4 linked regions of the Homo sapiens genome follow. The protein of the gene in region 3 purifies or fractionates together with the protein of the main gene of each other region. This does not show direct contact. Each region holds a gene or a part of one and is shown on either strand. Other genes may lie near its edges. The genes, in order: QRICH1, OBI1, WRAP73 and CEP135.

The links.
Region 1: the proteins of WRAP73 (region 3) and QRICH1 purify together in Homo sapiens (affinity purification with mass spectrometry; 4 studies listed by BioGRID and IntAct, with this or other methods). This does not show direct contact.
Region 2: the proteins of WRAP73 (region 3) and OBI1 purify together in Homo sapiens (affinity purification with mass spectrometry; 5 studies listed by BioGRID and IntAct, with this or other methods). This does not show direct contact.
Region 4: the proteins of WRAP73 (region 3) and CEP135 purify together in Homo sapiens (co-immunoprecipitation; 8 studies listed by BioGRID and IntAct, with this or other methods). This does not show direct contact.

The regions. Positions count from the first base shown.
Region 1 is NC_000003.12:49,041,374-49,049,646, reverse strand, and holds part of QRICH1 (transcriptional regulator QRICH1), read left to right. Parts: intron 1-2,400; coding exon 2,401-2,578; intron 2,579-3,067; coding exon 3,068-3,222; intron 3,223-5,142; coding exon 5,143-5,257; intron 5,258-8,273. UniProt on the Homo sapiens protein: Transcriptional regulator that acts as a mediator of the integrated stress response (ISR) through transcriptional control of protein homeostasis under conditions of ER stress.
Region 2 is NC_000013.11:78,641,444-78,649,716, reverse strand, and holds part of OBI1 (ORC ubiquitin ligase 1), read left to right. Parts: intron 1-4,719; coding exon 4,720-4,855; intron 4,856-6,164; exon of another isoform or gene 6,165-6,691; intron 6,692-7,503; coding exon 7,504-7,595; intron 7,596-8,273. UniProt on the Homo sapiens protein: E3 ubiquitin ligase essential for DNA replication origin activation during S phase.
Region 3 is NC_000001.11:3,629,758-3,633,864, forward strand, and holds the end of WRAP73 (WD repeat-containing protein WRAP73), read right to left. Parts: intron 3,747-4,107; coding exon 3,641-3,746; intron 2,582-3,640; coding exon 2,456-2,581; intron 2,400-2,455; coding exon of another isoform or gene 2,266-2,399; intron 1,901-2,265; coding exon 1,709-1,900; exon of another isoform or gene 1,361-1,708; coding exon 1,218-1,360; 3' UTR 1,013-1,217; downstream 1-1,012.
Region 4 is NC_000004.12:55,944,002-55,952,826, forward strand, and holds the start of CEP135 (centrosomal protein of 135 kDa), read left to right. Parts: upstream 1-4,943; 5' UTR 4,944-5,058; intron 5,059-8,084; 5' UTR 8,085-8,129; coding exon 8,130-8,242; intron 8,243-8,389; exon of another isoform or gene 8,390-8,470; intron 8,471-8,825. UniProt on the Homo sapiens protein: Centrosomal microtubule-binding protein involved in centriole biogenesis. Acts as a scaffolding protein during early centriole biogenesis.

The sequences.
Region 1 (8,273 bases), on a different chromosome or scaffold from region 3:
AGACACCTGTAATCCCAGCTACTCGGGAGGCTGAGGCAGGAGAATGCCTTGAACCTGGGAGGCGGAGGTTGTGGTGAGCCAAGATCATGCCACTGCTCTCCAGCCTGGGTGGTAGAGCAAGACTTTGCTCAAAAAAAGAATTTTAAAAAGTTGGAAATATTTTAACATTATTCAAACATTCACTTTTTTATTTTTATTTTTTGAGCCAGAATCTTTCTGTGTCACCCAGGCTGGAGTGCAGTGGCACTGTCTCAGCTCACTGTAACCTCCGTCTCCTGGGTTCAAGTGATTCTTATGCTGCAGCCTCCCAAGTAGCTGAGATTACAGGCATGAGCCACTATGCCTGGCTAATTTTTCTATTTTTAGTAGAGATGGGGTTTCACCACTTTTTTTTTCTTTAAATGATGGCTCAACTGTGGCTGGACATTAAAATCACCTGGGAAGGCCAGGCACAGTGGCTCATGCCTGTAATCCCAGCACTTTGGGAGGCCAAGGCGGGCAGATCAGTCGAGGTCAGGAGTTCGATACCAGCCAGCAAGATGGTTCAATAACAGCCGTCTCTACGAAAACTACAAAAATTAGTTGGGCATGGTGGTGCATATCTGTAATCCTAGCTACTCGGGAGGCTGAGAAAGGAGAATCGTTTGAACCTGGGAGGTGAAGGTTGCAGTGAGCCGAGATCGTGCCACTGCACTCCAGCCTAGGCGAAAGAGCAAGACTCCATCTCAGAGGGAAAAAAAAAAAATCACATGGGAAGCTTTTAAAAATACTGACAATGTGCCTCTACCTTACAATGGCTGGAGATAAGGCCCAAGTGTGAGGTTTCTTTCTTTTTTTTTTTTTTTGGTTTTTTTTTTTGTGAACAGAGTCTCACTCTGTTACCCAGGCTGGAGTACAGTGGTGCGATCTCGGCTCACTGCAAGCTCCGCCTCCTGGATTCATGCCATTCTCCTGCCTCAGCCTCCTGAGTAGCTGGGACTACAGGCGCCCGCCACCACACCCGGCTGATTTTTTTGTATTTTAGTAGAGATGGGGTTTCACCGTGTTAGCCAGGATGGTCTCAGTCTCTTGACCTCGTGATCCACCCACCTCGGCCTCCCAAAGTGCTGGGACTACAGGTGTGAGCCACTGCACCCGGCCAGGGTGGGTTTTTTTTTTTTTTTTTTTTTAAAGCAATCCAGATGATTTCAAGGTGAGACCCAGTTTAAGAATCAGTGCTCTCGGCCGATGGCCCAAGCCTGTAGTCCCAGCACTTTGGGAGGCTGAGGAGGGCGGATCACCTGAAGATGGGAGTCAAGACCAGCCTGACCAACATGGAGAAACCCCATCTCTACTAAAAATACAAAATTAGCCGGGCGTGGTGGCACATGCCTGTAATCCTAGCTACTTGGGAGGCTGAGGCAGGAGAATAGCTTGAACCCGGGAGACAGAGGTTGAGGTGAGCCGAGATCCTGCCATTGCACTCCAGCATCCAAGAACAAGAGCGAAACTCTTTCCCCGCCAAAAAAAAAAAAAAGAAAGAAAGAAATGTTGTCTCAGTTCCTACCCTTTTCAATCAGAATATGCATTTTGATAAAATCCCCAAGTGATTTGTTTGCACATTAAAGACTGTGGGAGCAGTGCTTTGAGCCAGTAGTTCTCAGTGGTGACCAAACATTAGAATTACTTTTTTACTTGAGGAGTTTTTTTGTTTTGTTTTGTTTTTTCTTTTTTCTTTTTTCGAGACAGAGTCTCGCTCTATCACCAGGCTGGAGTGCAGTGGTGCAATCTTACTCAAGGAGTTTTTAAACAATTGATACCTTGGCTCCCCCTCAGAGAGATTCTGGGGTAAGTCTGGCTATTAGTGTTTTTAAATAAAAGATTTGACCGGGCACAGTGGTTCACGCCTGTAATCCCAGCACTTTGGGAGACTGAGGCGGGCAGATTACCTGAGGTTGGGAGTTCAAGACCAGCCTGACCAACATGGCGAAACTCCGTCTCGACTAAAATTATAAAATTAGCTGGCCGTGTTGGTGCATGCCTGTAAACCCAGGTACTCGGGAGGCTGAGACAGGAGACTCACTTGAACCCGGGAGGCGGAGGGTGCAGTGAGCTGAGATTGCGCCATTGCACTCCAGCCTGAGCAACAAGAGGAAAACTCCGTCTCAAAAAAAAAAAAAAAAAAAAACATTTAAAAGTGCAGCCAAGGCTGAGAAGCACTGCACTAGCCCAGTTGCAGTGCTGCTTTTGCTGTCCCTGGGGCAAGAGGTAGAACTCCAAAGCTTCTTAAAAGTAGGACAGCAATGAGTAGAGAAATATTTTCTTAAATAAATGAACTATACATAACATTTTTCTGGCAATTTTGCAGAAGGATCTAATATAAAACAATATTGACACATTTTCATGGTTTCTCTCCTATAGGCTCAAACTGTCCAGGTTGCTGAAGTTGAACCACAGTCACAGCCACAGCCTTCCCCAGAACTTCTGCTTCCAAATTCTTTGAAGCCAGAAGAAGGGCTTGAAGTATGGAAAAACTGGGCCCAGACCAAGAATGCTGAACTAGAGAAGGATGCTCAGAACAGATTGGCACCCATTGGGAGTGAGTGTCTTGGAAGAAGAGTGGGCTGTGTCTAAAATGCAATGGTACTAAAGTAACAGGAGGACAAAATGCCAGAAAAGTGGTGTCTCCTGTCTTGGGGACAAGAGAGCAACATCTGTAATAGTATGTTGAATTCAAGCCTAGTAACAAGCAGTACTGACCTTGTGTACATAATAAGCAGGATATGTGGGGTTTGCCCAAAACCAGGCATTTTTAGACATACGGGTTTCAGGAGTTGACCCTACCAGACCTAAGCAGAGTGGCTTCTGGGAGGAAATGGGAACCAGGGATAGGCACTCAAGCCCTTCTTTCTTGGCATTAGGCTCATATACTCATGTTATAGGCCAGTTCTGACATTACAGGCATGAAACATTCTAGTAGATACAAGTGAGCATTTCTATCCCAGCACCCTGATGGGCAGTATCTGTTCTGAGCCTTCCAGATATGGACCCCCAGGACCTTCATTCATTTTTGAGGCTTCCGTTGCAGGGCGCCAACTGCTGCGATTCCAGGAAGATCTCATCTCCTCTGCTGTGGCAGAGTTGAATTATGGGCTCTGTCTAATGACACGGGAAGCTCGAAATGGAGAAGGTGAACCCTATGACCCAGATGTGCTCTACTATATTTTCCTGTGTATTCAAAAGGTAGGAAACAGATCTTCACAAGAACATGTTTGAGCTGTGTTCCTATTGGATGTTTGCTAGTTTAGTTAATAAATTGATAAGCAAGAAGTTAAAATAAGGAAGTTCTCTTTCAGGTATACAGTGAGTTTTAAAATACACATTTGTTGTTTTTTTTTTTTTTTTAAGTTTTAAAAACCTACACGTTCACTTTAGAAAATAACAGCCGGGGCCGGGCGCTGGTGGCTCACGCCTGTAATCCCAGCGCTTTGGGAGGCCGAGGCAGGTGGATCACTTGAGGTCAGGAGTTGAAGACGACCAGCCCAGCCAACATGGTGAAACCCCATCCACTAAAAATAGAAAAATTTGCCAGGTGTGGTGGTGCACTGCCTATAATCCCTGCTATTTGGGAGGCTGAGGCATGAGAATCGCTTGAACCCGGGAGGTAGAGGTTGCAATGAGCTGAGATCACAGCATTTTACTCCAGTCTGGGTGACAGAGCGAGACTCTGTCTCAAAAATTAAAAAAAAAAGAAAAGAAAAGAAAAAAAATAAGAGCCAGGCAAGATGTCTCACACCTGTAATCCCAGCACTTTGGGAGGCTCAAGGCAGGAGGATCGCTTGAGCCCCAGGAGTTTGAGACCAGCCTAGGCAACATAGTGAAACCCCATCTCTACAAAAAATTAGCTGGGTATGGTAATGCATGCCTGTAGTCCCAGCTACTTGGGAGGCTGAGGTGGGAGGATTGCTTGAGCCCCAGAGGTTGGGGCTGTAGTGAGTCATGATTATGTCACTACACTCCAGCCTGGGTGACAGAGTGAGACCCTGTCTGAAAAACGAAAAGAAAAAAAATTAGCTGGGTGTGGTGGCACACACCTGTAGTCCCAGCTATTTGGGAGGCTGAGGCAGGAGGATCCCTTGAGCTCAGGAGTGCGAGGCTGCATTCAGCTATGATTGTGCCATCACACTTCAATCTGGTCTACAAAGCAAGACCTTGCCTCTTAAAAAATAAATACATAAAATAAATAATAAAATAGGAAAACAAACATTATTCATCCTACTACCTAAACTTCTATTACATTATTGGTAATTACCTTGACTTTTTTTTTTTTTTTTTTTTTTTGTAATTCACAAAGCATTTATGTAACACTTTTCTTTTTGTTAAACCTGATTTTCATGAAGGTAATTTATTCAAAACAGAGTCTTGTGCCAGCATAGAGGTTTTCTTCTCATTGTTCCCTGCACTAACTACTTATTTGAAGGAGTCTAGCTAGAATAATATACCAATGTAGTTAGGTTTTCAGGACATCTGTGGTGAAGCATAACAGAAATTTGCAGACTGGCAGTTCAAGGGAGCAGAGGTGGATTTCTTAGTGTTTGAAGGCTCTTGAGGAGAAACCCACAGTATAATAGAATAGGGCTTACTGGTTGGGACTTATTCTGTTGCCTAGTCTTGAGAAATGTCTGCCTCCTAGTTTTTTCCTCTCTTGGTGGTCCTAACCTAAGTACTATGTGAATTGCTTTACATGCTTTCATTCTTTGCTCTCCCAGTCCTGGAAGGCAGATACCATCATCTCCATTTACAGGCAAGGAAACTGAGTCTCAGAAATTAAAAGACTTGCACATGTTGTTTAACTTATACAATATCTAATGGAAGGCTGACCCCAGAGCCTATTCATGATTTTTGCTAACACAAAATAATGCCTTTCTTGGGTGAAATAGCATTCACAACATCTGCCTTATTTACCCAACTCTCAAGAATGTCATGAGAATCAGTCACATGAGCTTAGGCATACTATGGAAGTGTCACATGCTGGTGCCTTGGTTTGTTGAGGTGTGAATGGGTAGGGAAGGATAGTAGTACTGGTAGAAAAATATATTTATTTCCCCTGAAATCCTTGTTCAGGAGACTACCAATAACTTCTATTAATTGTTTTTCTTTTAGTATCTTTTTGAAAATGGAAGGGTAGATGACATTTTCTCCGATCTTTATTATGTTCGGTTCACGGAGTGGCTACATGAAGTTCTGAAGGATGTTCAGCCCCGGGTCACTCCACTTGGTAAGAGTCTCCCTTGTCCTTGGATATCTTTCCTACCTGGATTTAAGAAAGATCAATAGCTTCTGTGGTTGGCTATGAAAAGCATGTGAGTGAGGGGGGATATAAATCCCAGACTGCAGCAGCATTGGCCACTGTGCTACTTGCCCTGATAGGGAAGAGGCACTGCTCACCAGAGAAGCCTGCTGGTTCCAGTGTGGGAAGGACACAGGAACAAGCAGAACTAGTGGGGTAGTTACTATCTTTTTTTTCCTATTAAAATGTATTGATTAAAATTAGAATCATAACAATTAAGGATTATGGACAGTTTTATCTGTAGAGCATAATTTTTGCTTTACTCACAGGCAGCCTTCTGGACAGCATGTTCTATTGGAACAAAAGCATAGGTTATTCAGTGTTTTTCTTTGTTTGTTCTTAAAAAAACATGGTCTTGGTATGTTGCTGAGATGGGCCTCAAACTCCTGAACTCAAGCGATCCTCCTACCTCAGCCTCCTGAGTAGCTGGAGCTATAGGCATGCGCTACTGTGCTCAGCTATTTTTGTTTTGTTTTGTTTTGTTTGAAACGGAGTCTCACTCTATAGCCCAGGGTGGAGTGCAGTGGCACGATCTTGGCTCACTGCAGCCTCCGCCTCCCAGGTCCCAATTCAGGCAATTCTCCTACCTCAGCCTCCTGAGCAGCTGGGATTACAGGCATGTGCCATCATGCCCTGCTAATTTTTGTATTTTTAGTAGAGACAGGCTTTTGCCACATTGGCCAGGCTGGTCTCAAACTCCTGACTTTGTGATCTGCCCACCTCGGCCTCCCAAAGTGCTGGGATTACAGGCGTGAGCCACCACCGTGCCTGGCCTATTTTTGTTTTTAATAGACTTTTTTTTTTTTTTTTTTTTTTTTTTTGAGACAGAGTTTTGCTCTTGTTGCCCAGGCTGGAGTGCAATGGTGTGATCTTGGCTCACTGCAGCATCCACCTCCCAGATTCAAGTGATTCTCCTATCCCAGCCTCCCAAGTAGCTGGGATTACAGGAGCATGCCACCACGCCTGGCTAATTTTTGTATTTTTACTAGAGACAGGGTTTCATCATATTGGTCATGGTGGTCTCGAACTCCTGACCTCAGGTGATCCGCCCACCTCGGCCTCCCAAATGCTGGGATTACAGGCATGAGCCACCACGGCCAGCCAATAGACTTTATGTTTTAGAGTACTTTTAGGTTTCCAGAAAAATTTAGCAGTAAGTACAGAGAATTTCCATATAACTCCTTAAGTATATACCCTCACACACAGTTTCTCCTATCAATAACATGTTGCGTTAGTATGGTACATTTGTTATAATTGATAAACCAATATTGATACATTATTGTTAACTATAGTTCATAGTGCTATGAACTATATTATTGTGTTGTACGTTCTGGTTTACATTCTGTATCTGTTGTACATTCTGAGTTTTGATGAATGTATGATGACATGTGTCACCATCATGGTGTCATATAGAATGTTTACTGCCCTAAAAAATACCTCTTCTGGGCCAGGCATGGTGGCTCACACCTGTAATCCCAGCACTTTGGGAGGCAGAGATGGGCTGATCACTGAATATTGGGAGTTCAAGACCAGCCTGGCTAACATGGTGAAACCCCATCTCTACTAAAAATACAAAAATTAGCCAGGTGTGTTGGCAGGTACCTGTAATCCCAGCTACACGGGAGGCTGAGGTAGGAGAATCGCTTGAACCAGGGAGTCGGAGGTTGTGGTGAGCCAAGATTGCGCCACTGCATTCCAGCCTGGTGACAGAGCGCGACTCCGTCTCAAAAAAAAAAACAAACCTTTTCACCTGTTTATCCCTCCCTCCCCCAGATACCCTGAAAACCACTGATGTTTTTACTATCTTCACAGTTTTGCCTTTTCCAGAATGTCATATAGTTGGAATAATTCGGCATGTGGCCTTTTCAGATTTGTTCCTTTCATTTAGCAATATGCCTTTAAGATTCCTGTGTGTCTTTGGCTGGGTGCAGTGGTTCATGCCTATAATTCCAGCACTTTGGGAGGCCGAGGCATGTGGATCACAAGGTCGGGAGATCGAGACCATCCTGGCTAACACGGTGAAACCCCGTCTCTACTAAAAAATACAAAAAAATTAGCCGGTTGTGGTGGTGGGTGCCTGCAGTCCCAGCTACTCGGGAGGCTGAGGCAGGAGAATGGCATGAACCTGGGAGGCAGAGCTTGCAGTGAGCTGAGATCGTGCCACTGCACTCCAGCCTGGGCGACAAGAGCAAGAGTCTGCCCCGTGCCACCCCCGCCCCCCCGCCCAAAAAAAAAAAAAAACACAGTCTGGGCGCGGTGGCTCACGCCTGTAATCCCAGCACTTTGGGAGACCAAGGCAGGTGGATCACTTGAGACCAGGAGTCCGACACCAGCCTGGCCAACACATAAAACGTTGTCTCTACTAAAAATACAAAAAATTGGCTGGGAGCTGTGGTTCACACCTGTAATCCCAGATAATCCCAGAGCTTTGGGAGGCTGAGGCAGGTAGATCATGATATCAGGAGATCGAGACCATCCTGGCTAACACTGTGAAACCCCGTCTCTACTAAATACAAAAAATTAGCTGGACGTGGTGGCATGTGCCTGTAGTCCCAGCTACTCGGGAAGCTGAGGCAGGAGAATTGCTTGAACCAGGGAGGCAGAGGTTGCAGTGAGCTGAGACCACGCCACTCCACTCCAGCCTGAGTGACAGAGTGAGACTCCGTCTCAGAAAAAAAAAAAGGAGTAGCAGCTGGTTGCAGTGGCTCACACCCATAATCCTAGCACTTTGGGAGACCGAGGTGGGAAGATCAGTTGAGCCCAGGAGTTTGGGACCAGCCTGGTCAACAAAGTGAGACCCCCATCTCATTCATAATAAATATCTAGGCTGGGCCTGGTAGCTCACACCTGTAATACCAGTATTTCGGGAGGCCATGGTGAGAGGATTGCTTGAGCCCAGGAGTTCAAGACCAGTCTGGGCAACATGGTGAGATCCTATCTCCAC
Region 2 (8,273 bases), on a different chromosome or scaffold from region 3:
TTCTTAGGGACTTTGTTGCCTATCGCTGTAATACCCCCATCACTCTTCATCCATCACTAATATCCTCTCTTTATCATTCCCATTGGTATTCCTAACCGTCGTCTCATTTTTATGCTCTCTCCTTTACAGCAAAACATGAAAGAATTGTCTGTATTTTCTGTCTTCACTTCTTCATCTTTCATTGTCTCTCAACCTCCAGTCAGGTTTCCATCCCCAACATTCGCTGAAACAGTGCTTGTCGGTAACTGATCAGAGTGACTTCCAAGCAGTTAAATCCCATAGTCACATCTCAGTGCACATCAAACTCAATCTCACATCAATATTTTACTTATCTGGCCGCTGCCTCTCTCTTGAAAAACTTTCTTGCCTTGACTTCTGTGATATCATATTCTCCTTTCCTACATCACAGGACCCCTCCTTGTCAGTTTCCTCTGCTGGTTGCTCTTCCTCTTCCTTTGCTTGCTGGAGTGCCTTCTTTTCTCCAGCTGTTTTGTCCATTCATGAGATCTCCTCCAGTCCTATGGCCTTATATGCTCATGTCTTTTATGGCAGTGACTCAAAACCTGCCTTGTTGAACTTGTCCACTTAAAAATGGGCTTAGCATCACAAATTTAGCATGGCTAAAACAGAATTCTTGATTTTTACCTTGTGCGAAATCTGCTTTTCTTGTCTTTGCCACTTCAGTATATGATAACACCAACTACTGAGTTGCTCAAAACCATTTCATAGATTGGGGAGATAATATTTAACCTTTGTTGTGGGAGCAAATACATGAAAAATACTGATTCTTTTTTTTTTTTTTTGAGATGGCATTTTGCTCTTGTTGCCCAGGCTGGAGTGCAATGGTGCGATCTCAGCTCGCCGCAACCTCTGCCTCCCGGGTTCAAGTGATTCTCCTGCCTCAGCCTCCCAAGTAGCTGGGATTACAGGCACACGCCACTAAGACCTGCTAATTTTGTATTTTTAGTAGAGATGGGGTTTCTCCATGTTGGCCAGGCTGGTCTCAAACTCCTGACCTCAGGTGATCAGCCCGCCTCGGCCTCCCAAAGTGCTGGAATTACAGGAGTGAGCCACCGTGCCCGACCTACTGATTGCTTTTAAATGTGTTTTTTTTATGGAAAGATTGGCAGAGCATCTTGAATCCTCTCATATAATGTGCACGCTTTGCTTTTAAATGTGTTTTTTTTTATGGAAAGATTGGCAGAGCATCTTGAATCCTCTCATATAATGTGCACACTTTTATGTCTTGAGCATTGGCTTTTATCCATTTTCAGATGAGTTTATAACTTATAAAAAATAACTTACTATAAAAGTAGATAACAGTAGATAACTTCCTTTTTTACCTGAGCTTCCTAATTTTGGGGCATATAGTACTTCTAGGAATATTGCAGGGGTGTGTGTGTCTGTGTGTGTGTGTGTGTGTGTGTGTGTGTGTGTTTGGGGGAAGTTACAGGATAGATAAGGCAGTATCTTCTTGGTTTGGGATTTTTGTGCTCTTAAAAGATTTCATGACATAAAGATGAAATTAAAACATATATGAATATATTATGGTCTGGACTTGCAAATCACATGAATTTTTAAGAAAAAAAATAGAACCTGCAAAGAAAGTTCAGGTTTGTCTGCCATTTGAGACTCTGACCAGGAATACTTTATAGATAAGCGTTCACTCCTGGCTGCTGGTAGGACCACTTTGGAAGAAGACTTTGAAACACTATGGTTCATTATTTTTTTTTTTAATGAATCTGTCAAACCAGTTGAAATGAATGCTTAGAATTAAGTTTCTCCAAGAAGTTTAAATCTATTCCAGATTATCTTTGTTTAGTTTTCTTGGGTTAGTGTTCATAATCAAGGGAGAACCAGAATGTTCAGAAAGCCAGACTGAGACCAGAGCTCTTTGTAACGAGACTCAAATGATTACCTGCCCATCATTGAAGGGGGCCAGCCCCTCCACACCTGTGGGTATTTCTCATCAGGTAGGACGAGAGACTGAGAAAAGAAATAAGACACAGAGACAAAGTATAAAGAACAGTGGGCCCAGGAGACTGGTGCTCAGCATATGGAGGACCTGCACCGGCACTGGTCTCTGAGTTCCCTCAGTATTTATTGATTACTGTTTTACTATCTCAGCAAGAGGAATGTAGTAGGAGAGCAGGGTGATAGTGGGGAGAAGGTCAGCAAGAAAACATGTGAGCAAAGGAATCTGTGTCACAAATAAGTTCAAGGGAAGGTACTGTGCCCGGATGTGCACGTAGGCCAGATTTATGCTTCTCTCCACCCAAACATCTCATTGGGGTAAAGAGTAACAGAGCAGCATTGCTGCCAACATGTCTCGCCTCCCGCCACAGGGCGGTTTTTCTCCTATTTCAGAACTGAACAAATGTACAGTAGGGTTTTATACCAAGACATTCCATTCCCGGGGCAGGCAGGAGACAGGCCTTCCTCTTATCTCAACTGCAAGGGGCCTTCCCCTTTTACTAATCCTCCTCAGCACAGACCGTTCACGGGTGTCAGGCTGGGGGACGGTCAGATCTTTTCCATCTCATGAGGCCATATCTCAGGCTATCACATAGGGAGAAACCTTGGACAATACCCGGCTTTCCTGTGCAGAGGTCCCTGCGGCTTTCCGCCGTGCATTGTGCCCCTGGTTACTCCAGAATGGAGAATAGTGATGACTTTTATCAAGCATACTGCCTGTAAACATTTTATTAACAAGGCACATCCTGCACAGCCCTAGATCCCTTAAATCTTGATTCCATGCAACACATGTTTCTGTGAGCACAGGATTGGGGCAAAGTTACAGATTAACAGCTCAGGGCAAAGCAATTGTTCAGGGTACAGGTCAAAATGGAGTTTCTTATGTCTTCCTTTTCTACATAGACACAGTAACAGTCTGATCTCTCTTTCTTTTCCCTACAGTCATGAATAGCTATGCATCTATTAATTCTTTGAGAGGTGGGGGCCCCTTTTAAATTAATGAATACTCAGTAGATTCTTTTAAGGCAGACATAGAGTAGCACAAGCATTTTCTCCGAGAAAAGTGGTTTGTGGTGGTTCTGCCTCTTCATTCTCCCTCTACTTACTCTGCTTTCCCTTGACCTAGTCTTCCAGTTCCTAGTGCAGAAGGGTTCTATACTGTAATTACTATTAGGGAAATATTGAAAATGGCTATGAAATGTTTTGAGTCCCACCGTGAAGAGACCATGTAAATCAAGTGATAAGACTACATTTTTCTGTGCTGTTTTTGTTTGTATTTTTAAATTTGTGCTATTTCAAAAAATATTAAATCATTATTTCCTTCTGACAACTTTCCCAACTAGTTGAATGTTAACACTATCTTAATAGCAGTTAATCATTCAACAGACCTTTGTTGAGTACCTGCTAAGTACCAAGCTATCTTCTAGGCACTAAAGGTTTAGTTATGAATGAGAGTAAAGAAGTTCTTGCTCTCATGGAGTTTCCATTCTGATAAGGGAGATAGACAATAAATATGTAAACACGAGTATAATATCAGGTAATATAAATGCTGTGGAGAAAACCAAAGCAGCTTCTCTTTTCTTTCTTCCTCCTGATAAAACAACTACAAACAGTCAACACACCCAGTTAACCCTGAGCAAGCTACCTAATTTCTTCATGCCTTTGTTTTCTTATTTGTAAAGCATATTTACCCAGTTTACCTCACCAAGTTGTGGTATTTTTAAAAAAAGAGATGGAAAAGGGTTGGGGCGGTGAAAGATGCATGTGAAAGCCGTTTGTAAAATATGACTACAGGCCAGGCGCGGTGGCTCACGCCTGTAATCCCAGCACTTTGGGAGGCCGAGGTGGGCAGATCACCTGAGGTCAAGAGTTTGAGACCAGCCTGACCAATGTGGTGAAACCCCGTCTCTCCTAAAAATAGAAAAATGAGCTGGCGTGGTGGCAGGCGCCTGTAGTCCCAGCTACTCGGGAGGCTGAGACAGGAGAATTGCTTGAACCCAGGAGGCAGAGGTTGCAGTGAGCCTAGATGGTGCCACTGTACTCCAGCCTGGGTAACAGAGCGAGACTCCGTCTCAAAAAAAAATGCTATAAATGTAAGGTATTATTATTTGTGCTTGTTTAAATGGAGCCTGGAGTCAAAGATTTGTGTATTTGGTGTATCTCAGTAATTCTGTCTGCATTGTTTGCTGTTTAGATTATAAACTACTTGAGAGTGAAGCTCATGCCTTTTGGGTTGTTTTAGCTTTCATTACTGTTTGGTTTTGGGGAATTTCTAGTAAAGTATCAATACAATATTTAATAGTTGCTGTTATTCTGTAACAGTGGAATGAATTGAGAAAAGGATTCGGGCATCAGATGGATGATTGTGCTAAATGATATTTTCAAAAACCTAATCCTGCTGTTCTATAATGCTAAAATAGAAGAGTTTGAGCAAAATTGTCCCAGCCTTAGTGGAACAAAAAGCATTTTCTTTTTGGCATGAATTCTGTGGTTTAGGTACAAAATAAAGCATTTTATATGTCAAAAGCTTCAGTCTCCATGATCCAGTATCTCATCTAGTATCTCTGTTAAACATGTGTAAAAAGAAAAGTGACCAACAGAAGCAGTGTTTTTAAAAGCGCTAGATATCCCTTCTTAAACTCCTACTCTGCTATAATCTAGAGAAGCAGTTTGCTGTAAACTAAACCATTTGATCTTCTAATTATGACCGTTGTCCTGTACTAAAAGTGATTTCTTTTTTCAAAGGTACGTCAGCCTGTCATATGCATCAACAACCATGTATTTTGTTCGATTTGTATTGATTTGTGGTTGAAGAATAATAGCCAGTGTCCAGCTTGCAGAGTCCCCATCACTCCTGAAAATCCTTGCAAAGAAATTATAGGTAAGGGCCTGTTTTATATATGCATAGGAATAGGTTTGAAACAATCTCCAAATAATTTATATTTCGAGGAAGACTGAAATAGGCTATTTTCAGTGATGCTATTTGGCCAACATAATACTGAGTGGTTGAGTAATTTGTGTAATGTATATGTGGAGCAACTGGGGCACAAGGCACTGAGAGGTGCTAAGAGGAATAACCCTGAGAGCCTCACGGAACTTACATTTTCATAGCAACTGAACCAAAAGAAAAGCAGCAAGTGCTAAGGGCCCCAAAAAAGCCCAGAGAGTTCAGGCAAGAAACTTCAGCTAAGAACACCGAGAAGGGCTTCATAAAGTAGGTGGCCTTTAAGCTGGACATTTAAATTTAAGGATGGATAACATTTCAACGGTGAAAATTAAGGAGGGCATTTCCTGCAGGGAGAATAGCATGAACTAAAAAGTTTAGATACAGGAAAACCCAGAGCATGTTTTTAGAAATGATCAGTAGTCTACTTTGGGTCCGACTACTGAGATAAGACAAAAGGTAAATTGAGACTTTAGTGCAGAGAACCTTGAATGACAGCTAAATCAGGGACTTGCTCTAGGACTAAGAAGAAGGGTGAATTGGGCATGATGGTTTTGAGCAAGGGAGTGGTATGATCCAAAATGTGCTTTACAAATATTACTTGTGGTAATACATAGGTTGGACTATAGGAGTAGACAGGATGTGAGTAGGTCTGGTAGGAGGCTTTTGCCTAGGTGATAGAAAATGTAAGTTTGGATTAAGGGTGAAAACAAATTCTATGTCACATTAATATTGGTGGGGTGGGGGAGGAGTAAAGCTTGAACTAGAGGATCCTTGAAAAGGAGAACTTCTAAAGAGCCTTTTTAGAGTTTGGTTTTTATTCTACTCATATAAGTTATTTATTTTAGGTTGCAAAAATTAAAATGATTTCTACTTGTTTTTGCTATAGGAAAAATTGAAAGTGAATCTACAATTAGCCAAGTATAGAAAACATTTTTCAGAAAACTTAAGAAGTCATTGTAATAGTCCCAAGTTAGGGAAAATGGACTTAAATAAGATTTTTTTTTTTTGAGACAGAGTTTCGCTCTTGTTACCCAGGCTGGAGTGCAGTGGCGCGTTCTCGGCTCACCGCAACCTCTGCCTCCTGGGTTCAAGCGATTCTCCTCCCTCAGCCTCCTAAGTAGCTGGGATTATATGCATGCATCACCACGCCCGGCTAATTTTGTATTTTTATTAGAGACGGGGTTTCTCCATGTTGGTCAGGCTGGTCTCGAACTCCCGACCTCAGGTGATCTGCCCGCCTTGGCCTCCCAAAGTGCTGGGAATTACAGGCGTGAGCCACCGTGCCCAGCCAAGATTTTTACAAAGGAAATAGAAAGGAATATATATGCTACAGAGCAAAAGAAGAACTAGTAGGACTTAGGAAATAAGAGATCTGAAGGCGCAATCAGAGTTGGCTCTTGGTACCTGGGTGAAGTCTGGTAGAGGACTGGTTCTCTGCTGTGTTGCATGCTACGGGGTTAACCTCTATCTGTTTTTTTTTACCTGCTGAATTTCACCAAGGAGTCAAGTCTTTTCTTGCAGAATATGAGCTTTGATGATTTGAATATTTTCCCCCAGCTTTTCTTCTCATCCCATATCCTACCTTTATTCATTCATACCTAAGTGATATTTCATAAATTCTCTCAAGGAAAATAGTTCATCCATTTTTGCATTTGGATAGAACATCCTGAAAAAGAACACCTGTAAAATACCTTTGCTATTATTATAATGCTAAAAAATACAAAGAAGGTAACCAGAGCATCAGTGAAGAGCTCTCAGGAAGAATTCATTGTGAGTGCATTTGTAACAAGTCATGACATAGAGTTAATGCCATGACTTACAGTCCATTGTAACTAGCCTGTTAGAATCCGTGAAAAGACACATTAATCTATATACATAGGTATATAGCAGTAATACTTTTTTTTTTTTTGAGACGGAGTCTCGCTTTGTCGCCCAGGCTGGAGTGCAGTGGCGCAATCTCGGCTCACTGCAAGCTCCGCCTCCCGGGTTCATGCCATTCTCCTGCCTTAGCCTCCTGAGTAGCTGGGACTACAGGCGCCAGCCACCACGCCCGGCTAATTTTGTTTGTTTGCATTTTTAGTAGAGACAGGGTTTCACTGTAGCCAGGATGGTCTCTATCTCCTGGCCTCGTGATCCGCCCGCCTCGGCCTCCCAAAGTGCTGGGATTACAGGCGTGAGCCACTGCACCCAGCCAGTAATACATTTTTATATAATCTCTTGGTTAAATGTAAATGTAATAATTGGTTTTATTATTTAAATATAGTCTAGTTTTCAGAATTTGAAGTAGTCCAAATGTGATAATTACAGCCCTTTCCTCCACTGAGTTTGCTGTGATAAGATATGTAGATATGTAAATACAATATGATGTGTTACTGAAGGTATTTCTTATGGTGTTATTTGATATATTTTTTTTTCCTCAAGATTAGGGTAGAGAAAAGGCCTAGATGTAAGCCCCAAGTGTGTATGTAAGGGGAAGGGTAGATGTGAAGCTGGGAAGCTATATAAAACAATATGAAAAAGGATCATTTTCATTCTTCCCGAATCAGAATGAAAAATTAGGATTTTTTTTTTTTTCCCTACAGGAGGAACAAGTGAAAGTGAACCTATGCTAAGCCATACGGTCAGGAAGCATCTTCGGAAAACTAGACTTGAATTACTACACAAAGAATATGAGGTAAACAGTAATCAAAGTTTAAAATTATGTTAGCAGTGAATTCAAGGTAAAAACTGACCTACCTCAGTCCCCAGACTTCTTAGAGTAAATATCCAATGAAATTTTATTTTAAAAGCCTATAAAAAGAAATTGTTTGATAAATTCTTTTTTCTTTTTTCCTTTCGTATTTTAAATAGAGGAAAGAGATTTTTTGTTTTATTTTTTTTCTTTAAGTACCAAGGAATGGGGGAATGGGATTCCAGAAAAAAGGAACAGATGGAAGCATTTCTTTCTTTTTTTTTTTTTTTTAAGTTAAAATTTGTACCTCCACAGACATATCATTTTGTATTTGCTTCCTCAAGAAGTTGGGAGAAAAAGGAAATCTCCTTGTGAAAGCCAGTCTGACCTCTGCAGTCATCAGTTGCTTCTGCCTATGAAGTTACTGATGATTATAAGCCTGATCAATTCTAGTAAAGTAAATACTATACCTTATGTCAACTGCCAGCACAGAGATTTTAGTGTGAAACATGCTGTTTCCTAATTATTGTCTAAAGGTGAATGAACAGGATGATTGGACATGGTGATGCTATTTTTACAAATAAATTCATGCTAATAGAATACATACACTTTTGAATAGTACACATTAAGCCCAGTTGTCATTTTATGTTGACTGAAGAAGGAGATATCGATCCCCTCTTG
Region 3 (4,107 bases):
TTGGTTCCTACCACTCTGGTGTAGACAGAGGACTTTGTCCAAGTCTCACACTAAACATGCCCGGGCTTCGATGTGCCTGGAGGATTTCCCCACAGGGACCCACGCACCTCCCTGTATCTGCGCAGCTTGCTCGTGTGGCTGGAAGCGCTGTCGATAAGCTTCACGCACTGGCTTGCCAGTTCTTCAGCTCTAGGACTTGTAGCTTTAAGCAAACGGTGTGGCATGGGTTGAGTGTGGCCACCTGCAGGATGTGCAGGGCTGCCTCAGAAGCTGGCTGGGGACTCTAGCCTCTGTGTTCATAAAGACATTAAGAAGTGGATGGATGTTGTTCCTTTTTTGAAGTTGTCATTAAAGTAGGTGCAACAACCAAGAAAGTGTCTCTTCCCTCTTTGAAAGCCTGCCCCATCTCTGCCGGCTCTGCACCTGTGGGCCTGTTCTGCCTGTACCATGCGGACTGCCTGTCACAGCAGTGCCGAGTATGGTTCTCTGCAGAAAGAGATCACGATATGCAACAACCTAGGTTTGCAACCCTGATCCCCCCACCTGTGGTGCCAACCAAGTCTGGCTGCCTGCCGAGCACCAGCTGGAGAGATTGATGGAATGGTTCTGGGTGGTTCTAGGCACTTCCTGCAAATAGCCAGGGTGGAGACCCACGCACACTGGTTCCGAAACCAGAGTAGACATGAGACTTCCTGAGGAACTGACTCAGCTGGTCGGGGACCTGCAGCTCCCATCCCGAGGGGACTGGACCTGGGGGTGGCGCTGCTCTCAGGTGCCAGGGCTCCCTGCCCACACTTCAGACCCACTGTGGGGAGGCTGGATGTGCCCCACAGAGATGCCCCCTCGTTGTCCTAACACATCCAAACAGAGAACCCAGAGCAGGCCGGGTGTCTGGCGGGAGCTAGTGGCCCGGGGCTCAGTTACTGTAGGGCTATCCATCTTCCCTAAGACTGACCAGAACCTCGAACCTAGAAAACCTGCCTGTGACTAAACGTTTCAAGAAGAGAAGTAGTTGTATAAATCAGCAAGTATTTATTTTAAATAATAAAACTACAGTTTTATACCATACATATTTACAAAAATGCTTTGCTATAGAAAAATAGAATCAATCACTGAATCCAGACCACCACAGTGGAGAACCTCCTGGTGAAGCTGTGTTTTTTCCCACACTGGAAACACAGAGTAGCCCTGTTTCTGCACACGTTAGTGCACCGCTGCTACGTGTGGCCGCCCAGCTGTCTGCAGGCTGTGCCGACCACTGCCTCTGTCTCCAGGAAGCAGAGGCAGAAGTGATCCTTGCTGAGGAGGGCCATCGAGTCTCCGCTTAAATGCCAGCACAGAGAGAGCACTGCAAAGTCGCCTAGAGAGAGACAGGTGGCCAGAGGATTACAGCAGGGGAGGCCCAGATTCTGGGGGATGGGCACCCCCTTGTCCTGCAGGCCAGCACAGTGCCTGGAGTGACCCACATAGGCAGAGCCAGGGTGGAGCCCCAGAGCTGCCTCAAGTCAGGGAGAGGCTGCTTCTAGCCCATAAAGCTGAGGGCAGCGGGTCCCCTGTGTGTCCGTCTTGAGGTTTACGCAAAGACTCTGAGGGCAGTTTCCCTGGAGTGCTGCCGGAGACAGCAGCTGGGCTTCAACAGTTCAGCCCGTGTGATGCCAGACTGCACACAGCAAGGCTGCCACGTCCGTGGCCTCGGGGATGTGCTTACCTTCCCCAGGCACCTGCACCGACATGCAGCCCGCTGGGGACCACAGGTAGAGCCTGCTGCCTCCCGTGCAGATGGCCAGCCGCGGCTGCTGCGGGTCCCACTGAAATGCGCGCACTGGGGACAGCTGCTCGAGCACCGCGAACAGCCTCAGCTTCTGAATGTCCCAGACCCAGACGGCATTGGGAATGTTGTCTGAGGAAGGAAGGACAGGGCACCGGTGTCATCCCTGCCTGGCTCCTCTGTGTTGGCCCTGCCCCTCTGCTCTGCTGTTGACACCACAGGAGGGGAGGGGAAGAACCGGTGGGGTGGGGCGGCTGCACCCTGCAGTCTGGGTTCAGTTGGGCCCTGTAGGGCTCCTGGCCAGGGCCAGGGTGGCCATCACGGGCTGTAAGGGGCCCAAATGTGTTTCTTTCTTTGGTATTTTTTTTTTTTTTTTAGCCCTTTACAAATGGAGAAACCCTTAACAAAAGGCGGGCTGCAGTGTGCCCAGCCCTGCTTTCTACTCAGCAGAGTGGAGCAAGTGAGCAGGGTGGAGGCCTCCTGACTCATGCGCGGACCTGCGGCTGCTGCAGGACAAAGGCCCAGCGCCTCCAAGGAGCTTCTGTGAGCACCTCGGCTACTGCAGAAACGTGAAAGGAGGTGACGTGTCGGAAACCCCCAACTTCATTTTCTTTTCCAGTCGCTTCTACACCTGGGGCCACAGGACACAGTAAAGGGTGAGACAGCACCTGCGTCAGCACAACTGACCGTTCCTTGTCGCCAGGAAGTAGCTGTCAGGACTAAATGCCAGCATTCCTATGCCGATTTTCGGGTTTGCTCTGTCGGTAACAGGTTTCAGTGTCTGTAAGGAGACTGGGACAGAGGCGATCTCATCTAGAACACCAACAGGAAGAACACGCCATTGTCACCCTTTCGGGAAGTACGCACGCGGCTGAGAGGCTGCTGTGCCTGCATCGGGCATCGCGAACCCAGCTCCTCTGTTCAAAGGGGAGGAAAGTGCGGCCCAAGGGCAGGAAGAGCTAAGCAAAGCCTGGCAGCCGCAGCGAGGGGCCTGCCCGCAAGTGCCCCGGATGAGAGTGGCACCATCACCTGCCAGGCCCGACTAGGTGGGGGGTGGACCCCACGTGCCAGGGGCTGACTGGAGAGGGACATGGACAGGTCCTAGCTGCAATCTCAGCAGCTCCAACTCCTCAGCACTTTTCTGTCGACTACCAGCATCTGAGTTCACAATCCCTTCCACCTCAGCGTCAGTACCCTTAGACTTTCCGGCTGTGGAAGAACCATCATCACAGCAGAAGCAGGGGCTGTGGAACAAGGACGCCCCTGGGCTCCTGGGGAGCGCCTCCTGTGTGCCAGGCTGCACCTGTCCTGACCCCCATCCTGAGCACACACCGAGCCCCGGGGTGGGCCCGTCGGCACTTGGGGCACCGCTTCCTCTACCTGCAACCTTCAGATGCCCTCATGCCCCTGTGGGATGGGTGCTTTTACTATGCCCATTTCAGCGATGAGGAAACAGACACATAGGAAATGCCCAGAGTCAAGAGGCTGCATCAGAACCGGGCCTCAAGCCGGAGACAGCGCTCGGGAGCACCGCCGGGTTCCAGACCCACTCTGAGCGCCACCCACGGAAAAGTGTTTCTTTGAAAAACATCATTCTCGGAGCTCCGGAAAAACATCCCCTCGGAGCTCCCGCTGTCAGATCCGGGTCTCCAGGGCTCATATTCAGTAACAGAAGCCGCACCTTCACGGCCCACTGCGCAATTCAGACCCTAGTCAACCTCCAGCCAACAGGCTGAGGGGCACACTGGCTGGAAGCATGGAAGGGAAAAAAAGTTTTTTTTTTTAAACATAAGGAACATCCGAAGTTTATCTGGACAACGAGGAATCTTGCATTAAAAAAGGAAAACAAATGACATCACATGTGCTACTTACATTTACTCTCTGAGCTCGGGAGAGGGCCGGCCCCGGCCCGGGGCGGCGGGAAGGAGAGGCAGCCCAGTCCCAGCTGTGGGCTCTTCTCGGCCTCCTTATACACCACCTGAAAGACACAAGGTGGCCACGCCCGGCTCAGGACAGGGACCCGGAAGCCAAGGATGGACGTGGCAAATGCCCATGACAGCGCATGGTCAACAGGTGTGCCTGCCATGACAGCTGGTCCTGCTGCCACCGGGAGAGACGGAAGCACGAACCCCGCAGTCCCGAGAGCTGAGATCACCCAGCCACCCTCTCTCGTGTCCTGCTGAGGAGCCCACCCTTTGAGACACAGGCAGCAAATGTGTGCCCTGTGATTACAGACGGGAGACCACTGCAGCCACCATCATCCAGCAAGGGAGTGGGCTCAGCCTTCCCTCCGTGATAAGAGGATACAGAGAACACTTGCACCAACACAGCAGAGGCCC
Region 4 (8,825 bases), on a different chromosome or scaffold from region 3:
ATTTTCCTGGACAGGGACAGTGAGGAAGACTCCAGGCCACTTCAGTCTTCATCTAACTCCTCCTTTTACACTGCCAGAGTTTTGACTGACCAAGCCCCTCGGTGGGAGCAGGGGCAGTCAACTGGCCAGTGCCAACGGTCATGACTGGTGCCTTCACATTGATGGCAAGGGCCCAGTGCAGGCTTAGTATGGTCCTTTGCCCAATGCCTATCTTTTTTTGCACTTGAAGCAAGAGTCTTTGCTAGCGTTATCTTTGTAGCCCTTTGTGTTTCCCTTGGATGCTCTTTGGGCATTCAAGGCATCACTAATGATGGCTGCCATAATTCTGGCTTGCTGGGTTTTTTTTTACTCTGTTCCCCTTTTCCTTCCTCCAGTTCATGATTGTTGTACACCATAAAGATGGTGTCAAGGAACTGGTTTTGTCTATGGCCCCCTTTGCAGCTTCTGGAGCTTATGTCTAATGTCTGGGGTAGAGTGACTAATGAAATGTTGTGCCATTAATATCTTGCCTTCAGGAGAAGCAGGATCTAAGTTTGTATATATTTTAAAGGCTTCTTCTAGTCTACTGTAAAACATGGTTGGATTCTCTTCTTTCCCCTGAGTAATCTCCTTAAACTTATCATAGTTTACTCCCTTTGTTACACCTTTTTTCATTCCCCTCAGGGGTGCCTCAAGAAATTTAGTTTGATTATTCATTCTCATGGGGGTATTATATTTCCAAATGGGTTCAGTAGTAGGGACTGTATCTGCTCCCGATCTGTTGCCCTGCAGGCTACATGCAAAATGTTCATCAGTGTCCTGGCGAGCAGCCTCAAATATTCATTCCTTTTCCAGAGGTGTGCAACAGGTGGCCAAAATGAATTGCATGTCTCTCCAAGAAAGGTTGAAAGCCAAAGTCAAAGTCTGGAACCCAACAGCAAATTTCTGAGTAACTGCCCAGTTTTTCCTTACATTGTTGGATATCAGTTATTAAGAAGGAGACCTGTACCCTGATGGGACCCTCAGTTCCTGCCACCTCTCTGAGAGGTAGCAGGACAGGTGGTGTCATTGAATATGGTGTTCCTAAGCTAGTATGGGGAGGGATCGCTAGGACCCGTGACTCTTGTCCTTCTTTTGAAGCTTCAAGTGCACTTGGACCTGGATTATAGGAAGGTGGCTATTGTTCACCCTGACACATATGTACCCCTTGCAAGAGGGGGTTATCTACAGTATTCGGCTCAGTTTTAGGAGTTTCTTTCTGTGGAGAAGTGCTGGGAGCTTTGAAAATGGTAGGCTTTTGGTATAGGGCCATGAAGGCTTGCACATATGGTATTTCTGACCATTTGCCTTGTCTCTTACAAAATAGTTCTAATTGGAGGATGGTGTCATAATTGAGACTTCCATTGACTGGCCATTGCTCTTGACTCCCTAGCTGAAATTGAGGCCAAAAGGTGTTACAATAAAATATTAGGCATTTCTTTCACAGGTTTTCAGGGTCAAATTGATTCCAATGATTGAAGATGCAGCCAAGAGGGGAGTCAGATAGGACTGAAGGAATGTTTCCCAACACTAATCTGTGGAAAAGAAGAAGGGAGTTGTCAGGCCTCTGAGCCCAAGCCAAGCCATTGAATCCCCTGTGACTTGCACATATATGCCCAGATGGCCCAAAGTAACTGAAGAATCACAAAAGAAGTGAAAATACCCTGCCCCGCCTTAACTGATGACATTCCACCACAAAAGAAGTGAAAATGGCCAGTCCTTGTCTTAAGTGATGACATTACCTTGTGAAAGTCCTTTTCCTGGCTCATCCTGGCTCAAAAAGCTCCCCCACTGAGCACCTTGCGACCCCCACTCCTGCCCACCACAGAATAACCCCTTTGACTGTAATTTTCCTTTACCTACCCAAATCCTATAAAACTGCCCCACCCCTATCTCCTTTCGCTGACTCTCTTTTCAGACTCAGCCTGCCTGCACCCAGGTGAAATAAACAGCCTTATTGCTCACACAAAACCTGTTTGGTGGTCTCTTCACATGGACGCGCATGAAAGGAGTCTCATAGGTTCATGAGTTTACATCTAGAGTCTCCCTTAAGGGTGTCCCCTATTGAAGGATCTGGACTGTAATTTTGGTCCATTTGGGCATCCCCCAAATGGACCTGTCCTCTGAGTGCCAGACGTCTCTAGCCATAGTGGGCACCAGTGCCATTTGAAGAAGGATCCTGCCATAATTGGTGACCTATGATAAGTTTCCCTTTAGTTCCTGGGTGTAACCTTTGGCTTCTAGTATCCCTGTAGCTGGCCAAAAGAGTTTCTTCCCAAATGGTTTCCTTAATTATTGTAGTAACTCTAGTTTGAAGGGCAAGGAATTGCAGACTGCCTAGTTTAAATTTGTTATTAGAGACTGGCCTCTCAATAAGATAGTAGAGTGCCCTCTGACTATATGAGATAAACCAGGCACAGTAATTTCCCCATGGATCCACTGTGCAATTTATGCAATGATCCGAGAGTCTCCACCAGGAGTTTTCTTTTAGCACCAGATGTACTAAACTAAAACAATCTAGATCTGATCCCTCACAGAAGAAGCAGGGTACTCTCATTATCCAGGTGGTTGGCCCTAATCTTCAGGCTGATGCTAATCCTTGGGCTCCCCACAGTCAGTTACCTGTTGTCCTGGCCCTTTGGGTTGGGGGGAGATCTCTAATTGGTCAAAACATGATATCCCAACACAAATGAAGAAAAGAAAAAAAAAATAAAACAAGCAGCAAGGCTGGGCACGGTGGCTGGCTGGGCATGGTGGCTCATGCCTGTAATACCAGGACTTCGGGAGGCCGAGGTGGGCGGATCACCTGAGGTCAGGAGTTCGAGACCACCCTGGCCAACATGGTGAAACTCTGTCTCTACTAAAAATACAAAAATTAGCCGGGCATGGTGGTGGGTGCCTGTAATCCCAGCTACTCAGGAGGCTGAGGCAGGAGAATTGCTTGATCCCGGGAGGTGAAGGTTGCAGTGAGCCGAGATCATGCCACTGCACTCCAGCCTGGGTGACAGAGCAAGACTCCATCTCAAAACAAAAACAAAAACAAAAACAAAAACAAAAACAAAAAAACAAGCAGCAAATAATGTAATAATTATAGCCACACAAACATGCACCTCACTGTTGCAGGGATTGATCTTGTACCCCGTGGGACCCATCTGTTCCATTCCCCAATCAGGTTATCCTGTCACGTTGAGGCAGGAATTTAAAGAAAGTTTTGTACTGCATTTACTCACTCTAAGGATAGTAACAAGCAAGGCTATAGGAAGGTCATGGTGACCTAGTCTAAGAAGCCAGGAATGAGCTCCAAACACCCCTGAGCAATGGTTAAGAAAAACAAATTCCTTTACTGTTTCTCTTTCCTTAGACCATTAATTATGATTATTTTTGCCTATGTTTAGAAAGATTTGTAGGTTCCTGTTTTTCTTTTGACGCAGCTGCAAGGCCACCAGCTAAGCAAAGCCAAAAGTTATGCAAATTTCAGCAGTTATGCTATAGATTACAAAACCTGTCACTGTGTGATTTACTGCCTTGGTTCTGCTTTTTTAATTTAGCCTATATAAGCCAAGCTCTGTCTTTGTTCAGGGCTCAGCTTTTTGGATGCAAATCCACGGAGCCAGTGCACACCTTAATAAAATCCTCCTGCTCCACCCATTGGTCTTTCTGGTCCTCTGCTTTCCCGCAACAATGGGAGTCTTCAAGCGGCCAGTGCCTTTTTCGTTCTTAACTGCCCAATCCGTGCCAGCAGAAGGCAGCTTTAAACCAAAGTGAAAGAGCTGAAGCAAAAAAGAAAGAAAATAAAAAGTCCCAGTTCTTCTGGGCTTACCTCCTGGCTGGCTCACCAAAATATGTTACCAGATTGGAAGTTGGGAGTTCCAGGTTCTTGGTGTTATGAACAAAGAATTGGATGAGACACACAAATAACCACCCCACAAGATTTATTAAGCAAAGAATATACCAGAGAGAGGAACGGGCTTATCTTCAAGTGGTGTCAGCCCTGGATTAATATAGCCTTTGTTCTTTTATACCCACTTCCTACACTTCTTTAACTCTAGGGAGGGGATTTCCTATAATTGTCATATCTGTTTTCTTGTTTTTTCTCTCTTAGTGCGCCTGCGTGAGCTTGCCATAATTTTAAGTGTATGTATGATAGGCATTCCATAGGTATGAGCTGGTCAGTCTTCTGACTTCCTTCCCTATTCTGCTGCCTCAGAAGGCCTATTTGGGAGAAAAGTAAACAGGAAAGAATGAAACTCCCTCTGACTGTCTGGGAAATTTTCAGGGGAGAAATGGAATTCTAGGATTTTACTATGTGTTTTCCATCTGTGAGTGGACTATAACGGTTTATTTCAATTTAATTCCACTCACAAATGTTTTGCTGAGTAGAATAGTCTCTGACTCAAGGAATTCACATTTGGGGGCGGCAGAGAGAGACGGATCAACAAATGATTGTATTTTGATGGATGAATTCTATGGTTCTACAGAGAGCCTGCGGGAGATACTATTGTGGGATAATTAATTGCATTGGGTGGTTGTCAGGGAAAGTTGCAGAGACAACGTGATATCTGCGTTTGGGGATTACGTGGTGAGCAGGCGTTCACCTTGCAGGTGAAGGCTACTCCGCTGCAGGGACCGGTACTGGGGCGGCGTTTGTTCCCCGCACGCAGTAGGTGATCCACACCTCCCGCCGACAGGAGGAAGAGGATGCCAGCTCAGGCACCAGCTGAGGTTTGGCATTTGCTGGCCGCGGGCGCCGACCTCCAGGGGGCGCCGTGGCCTCGCGCTGTCCGGGCCGTTGCATTTCCGGGCACTGGGGCTCCGCCATCGTCGCCAAGCGCGTCCCCGCCGCGAGCCGCTAATCGTCCGCCGCTCCCGTTACCGGGGCAACCGCGGCGCCTCCTCCGTGTCGGCCCCGATCGTCCCTCCGCGCCATTTTCAAACTGCTCTAGCGCCGGAGCCCGTGCCTGGACGGAAGGAGCTAGTGGGGGACTCGAGGCCTGAGGGCAATGCGGCTGGAGGCGGAGGCAACGGCGGCTGGAGCTGCCGGTGAGTCCGGATGTGGGAGCCAGAGGGCCAGCTGCGGCGGTGGTGGCGCCTTCGCCTTCTGGGCGGTACCCGCGGGCCGGGCTCGGGCACTGCCGGGAGGCCGCGCGGCCGCGGGAGGAAGTGAGGCCAGGCCGGGTCAGACCGGGCGGGGAGGGGCGCGGGGACTCTTCCCACCCACCCCGCTCCCACACCCCCTTCCCGTCAACACCCGACGGTAAAGTTGCAAACCGGAGATTGGGTGGAGGAGAGCTTGGGCCGACTCGTCAAGGAGCGTCTGTGTGGGCCGTGCAGACAGGCTTGCTGTTGACCAATGGATAGATTTAAACATTAAAATGCCTTCTCAGTGTAGCAGTCATCCATGCTCTTTGTAACAAAAATGTCGCAAAGCGTAGGACGACAGCCTTTAATTAACCTTTGCCCAGCTCCTTTGAAGCCTCTCCACTGCTTTCCAGCCTTTACTACTTTGAGTTCAATAAGAAAGGACTCTGAGATAACCACAGCTAACGGGTTTCTTTGTTGTCGTTTGGGGTTTCTTGTTTATCTTCTTAAGCCCTGTGCACACATACATACAGCATTAAATGTACTGGTTTTGAGACGCCAACCCCCAGAGTTAAGTAGATGGATACTTCTACACATATATGTATGGGGGACCCCCAAACCTAACCTTTTATGTTGCTTTGCTAGAAACTTAGAGTATAGCCACCATATTTGGATGGGGGTTATGGGGAAAGACAACAGTTCATGGGTGGGGACGGCCTAACATGTTTCTATCTGGGAGGATTTTAATCCGTCCTGTGTATTGAGGCCCTGGCCATGATTTATTGATTCATATTCATTCTCATTCTCTCCCCTCCAAAGCAGGATGTGAGGAGGTATTATCTCTGGGTAACTGGAGTTGGTAGCAAAGAGGGGAAATGTTTTGAGTGGTGCACCGCCTGTAAGTTTACACCCTGCTAGTAATACACCTGGATTTGTCAGGTGTATTTCTGATGTCTGCAGGAATTTCCCTAAAAACCCTGCATCACTTAGGTGTCTCTTGTGGAAAGAACCTAGGAAATCTATGAGGAAGCCATTCAAAAAAAGTTAACAAGAGCAAAGAGAAAGATATACAGAAAGGAGTGACCAAGGAGAGACTCAGGAGACCTGGTCTCTGATGACTGCCCACCTACTTTGTGGCCCCGTGGTTTTGGAAGAGTTACTTTCTTGAGGCAGCCTTTCCTCATGTTTAAGTAGGGATAATATCATTGGTCTTTCTCCCTCACAGGGTAGCTGTGAGGATCGACTTTTACATGTATGCTCATGCATGTAATGCATTTTTTATATATTGTGAAGAACAACAGATGTAAAACAAAATTTTTATTTGGCTTAGAAATACGAGTACCATGACTACAGTTAGTTAGCAAAGGTTAGAAAAGAGCAGAGTTTCTAAAGAAATGATCTTTGGGCTGAGCATATTGGCTCACACCTGTAAACCTAGCACTTTGGGAGGTAGAGGTGGGAGAATACCTTGAGCTCAGGAGTTGGAGACCAGCCTGGGCCACATAGCAAGACCCTGTCTCTAAAAAAGGTAACAATTAAAATAAAAAAAAAAAAGAAATGCTCTTTGGATAACTCCATTTTAGGGCAGATTGATAGGAATATATTCATAAATATTTAAAAAGACAAAGATAAAAACTTGAACAGAGGTACTTATGTGTGTCTTTTTTTTTAATTGAAGTGAAATTTACATGATGAAATGCATAGAGTTTAAGTGTACTATTTGAAAAGTAAATTCTCTAAATGTATACACTTGTGTAACCACTACCCCAATCAATGTAATATTTTCATTACCCTAAAAAGTTGTGTCTTAACTCTTAACGGGCAATCTGCAGCCCGCCTCACCTCCCCAGACAACTCTTGTTTTAATTTCTGGCCCCATAGTTTTAATTTTACTTGTTCATCAACTTCATGTAAATGGAGTCATACAGTATTTGTCTGGTTTCTTTTGCTCAAATAATGTTTTTGAGATTCATCCATGCTGTTGATGTGTATCAGTAGTTCCTTTTATCCCTTAGTATTGCACTGTATAAATATATCATACTTTACCCCTTCTGCTGTTGATGGGGGTTTAGGTTGTTTCCAGTTTGGGGCTACTATGAGTAAAGCTGTGAACATTCTTGTAGAGTATTTTTGTGAATATTTTTTATTTCTATAAATACCTGGGAATAAAATCACAGGGTTATAGTCCAGAAGTATGTTTAACTTTATAAAAAAACTGCCAGACTTTTTCCAAAGTGATTTTACATTCCTGTCAGCAATGTGTGAAGATTCCAGTTGCTCCAGATCTTTGTCGACATTTGCTATTGTCGGTCCTTGTAATTTTAGTCATTCTAGTTTGGGAGAAAATGTACCTTGTTGTTTTAATTTGTATTTCCATGTTGACTACTGTTGAGCACCATTTCATATCATCATTCCCATTCAGACACCTATGCGAGGTGTCTGTTCGAATCTTTAGCGCAACTAAATTACAGTTTTAGCCCAAATTAATGTTCTTATTGGGATGTTTGTCTTATTATTGAGTTGTAAGAATTCCTTTTATATTCCCTATACAAATCCTTTGTCAGATATTGTGAATATTTTCTCCCACTCTTTGGTTTGCCTTCTCTATTTTAATTGAGTATTTTGATGAGCAGACATTTTAAATTTTGATGAAGTCCAATTTATCAAATTTATCTTTTATGTTTAGTGCTTTTAAAAGAGGCCTCTCTGAGAAGTCTCTGCCTACTTCAGGCTTAGGAAAAATCTTTGTTTTCTCCTAGAAGCTTTAGGATTTTAACTTTTACATTTAGTTGTATGAGGAAGTATTTATTTTAATGCAGTAACAGGAATATCATAAGCATTGGCTTTAAATCTGAATTTTCCAGAAGGCTACCTACCTGAAGAAAAACAAAAAATAATTGCTTCATATTAAAATAATTTTTTCTTCTTATTGTGAAACAACAATCATAGCTATAATAAGATAATGATGTTTCATTCTTTTCTCTCAGGACTTTAATTTTTGGAAGTGAATAAAACTTGTTTTAGAAGACGAGATGACTACAGCTGTAGAGAGAAAGTATATTAATATTAGGAAAAGGCTGGATCAGCTGGGATACCGCCAGACTCTGACAGTGGAGTGTTTACCTTTGGTAGAAAAACTTTTCAGGTAAAGACAAAAATACAGTTTTCAACCTTTATGATCCCTAACCACTTACCTCATTTCTGATTGAACTTCATGCTTTGGTAAAGAAAAGGGTAGCTTTCCGGAAAGGCTTTCAATCATGAAGCTTATCTGTTTTTTCCCTGTCCTCAATCCAGGCCTTCCACACGGCAGAACTCTAAAGGCCACCACTCACGCTGTACTGTTCAAAGTCAACATTTCTGGGGGTTTTCTCTGTGAATGGAATTACAGTTTTTTGGGTTTCTGATATAATTGAGAGACACTTTTCCCTTAAGTTCTTTTTTTTTCCCCCCCTTAAGTTCTATGTCTGCTTCACTGGTCTTCAAATACAGTCATGGATAGTTTCATGACAGGGATACGTTCTGAGAAACATGTCATCATTAGGTGATTTTTTCGTTGTACCAACATCATAGGGTGTGCTTACACAAACCTAGATGGTGTCGCCTACCACAAACCTAGGCTATATGGTCTGTATCCTATGGCTCCTAGGCTACAAACCTGTATAGCATGTTACTATACTGAATACTGTAGGTAATTGTTAACACAGTGGTGCCTATTTGTATATCTG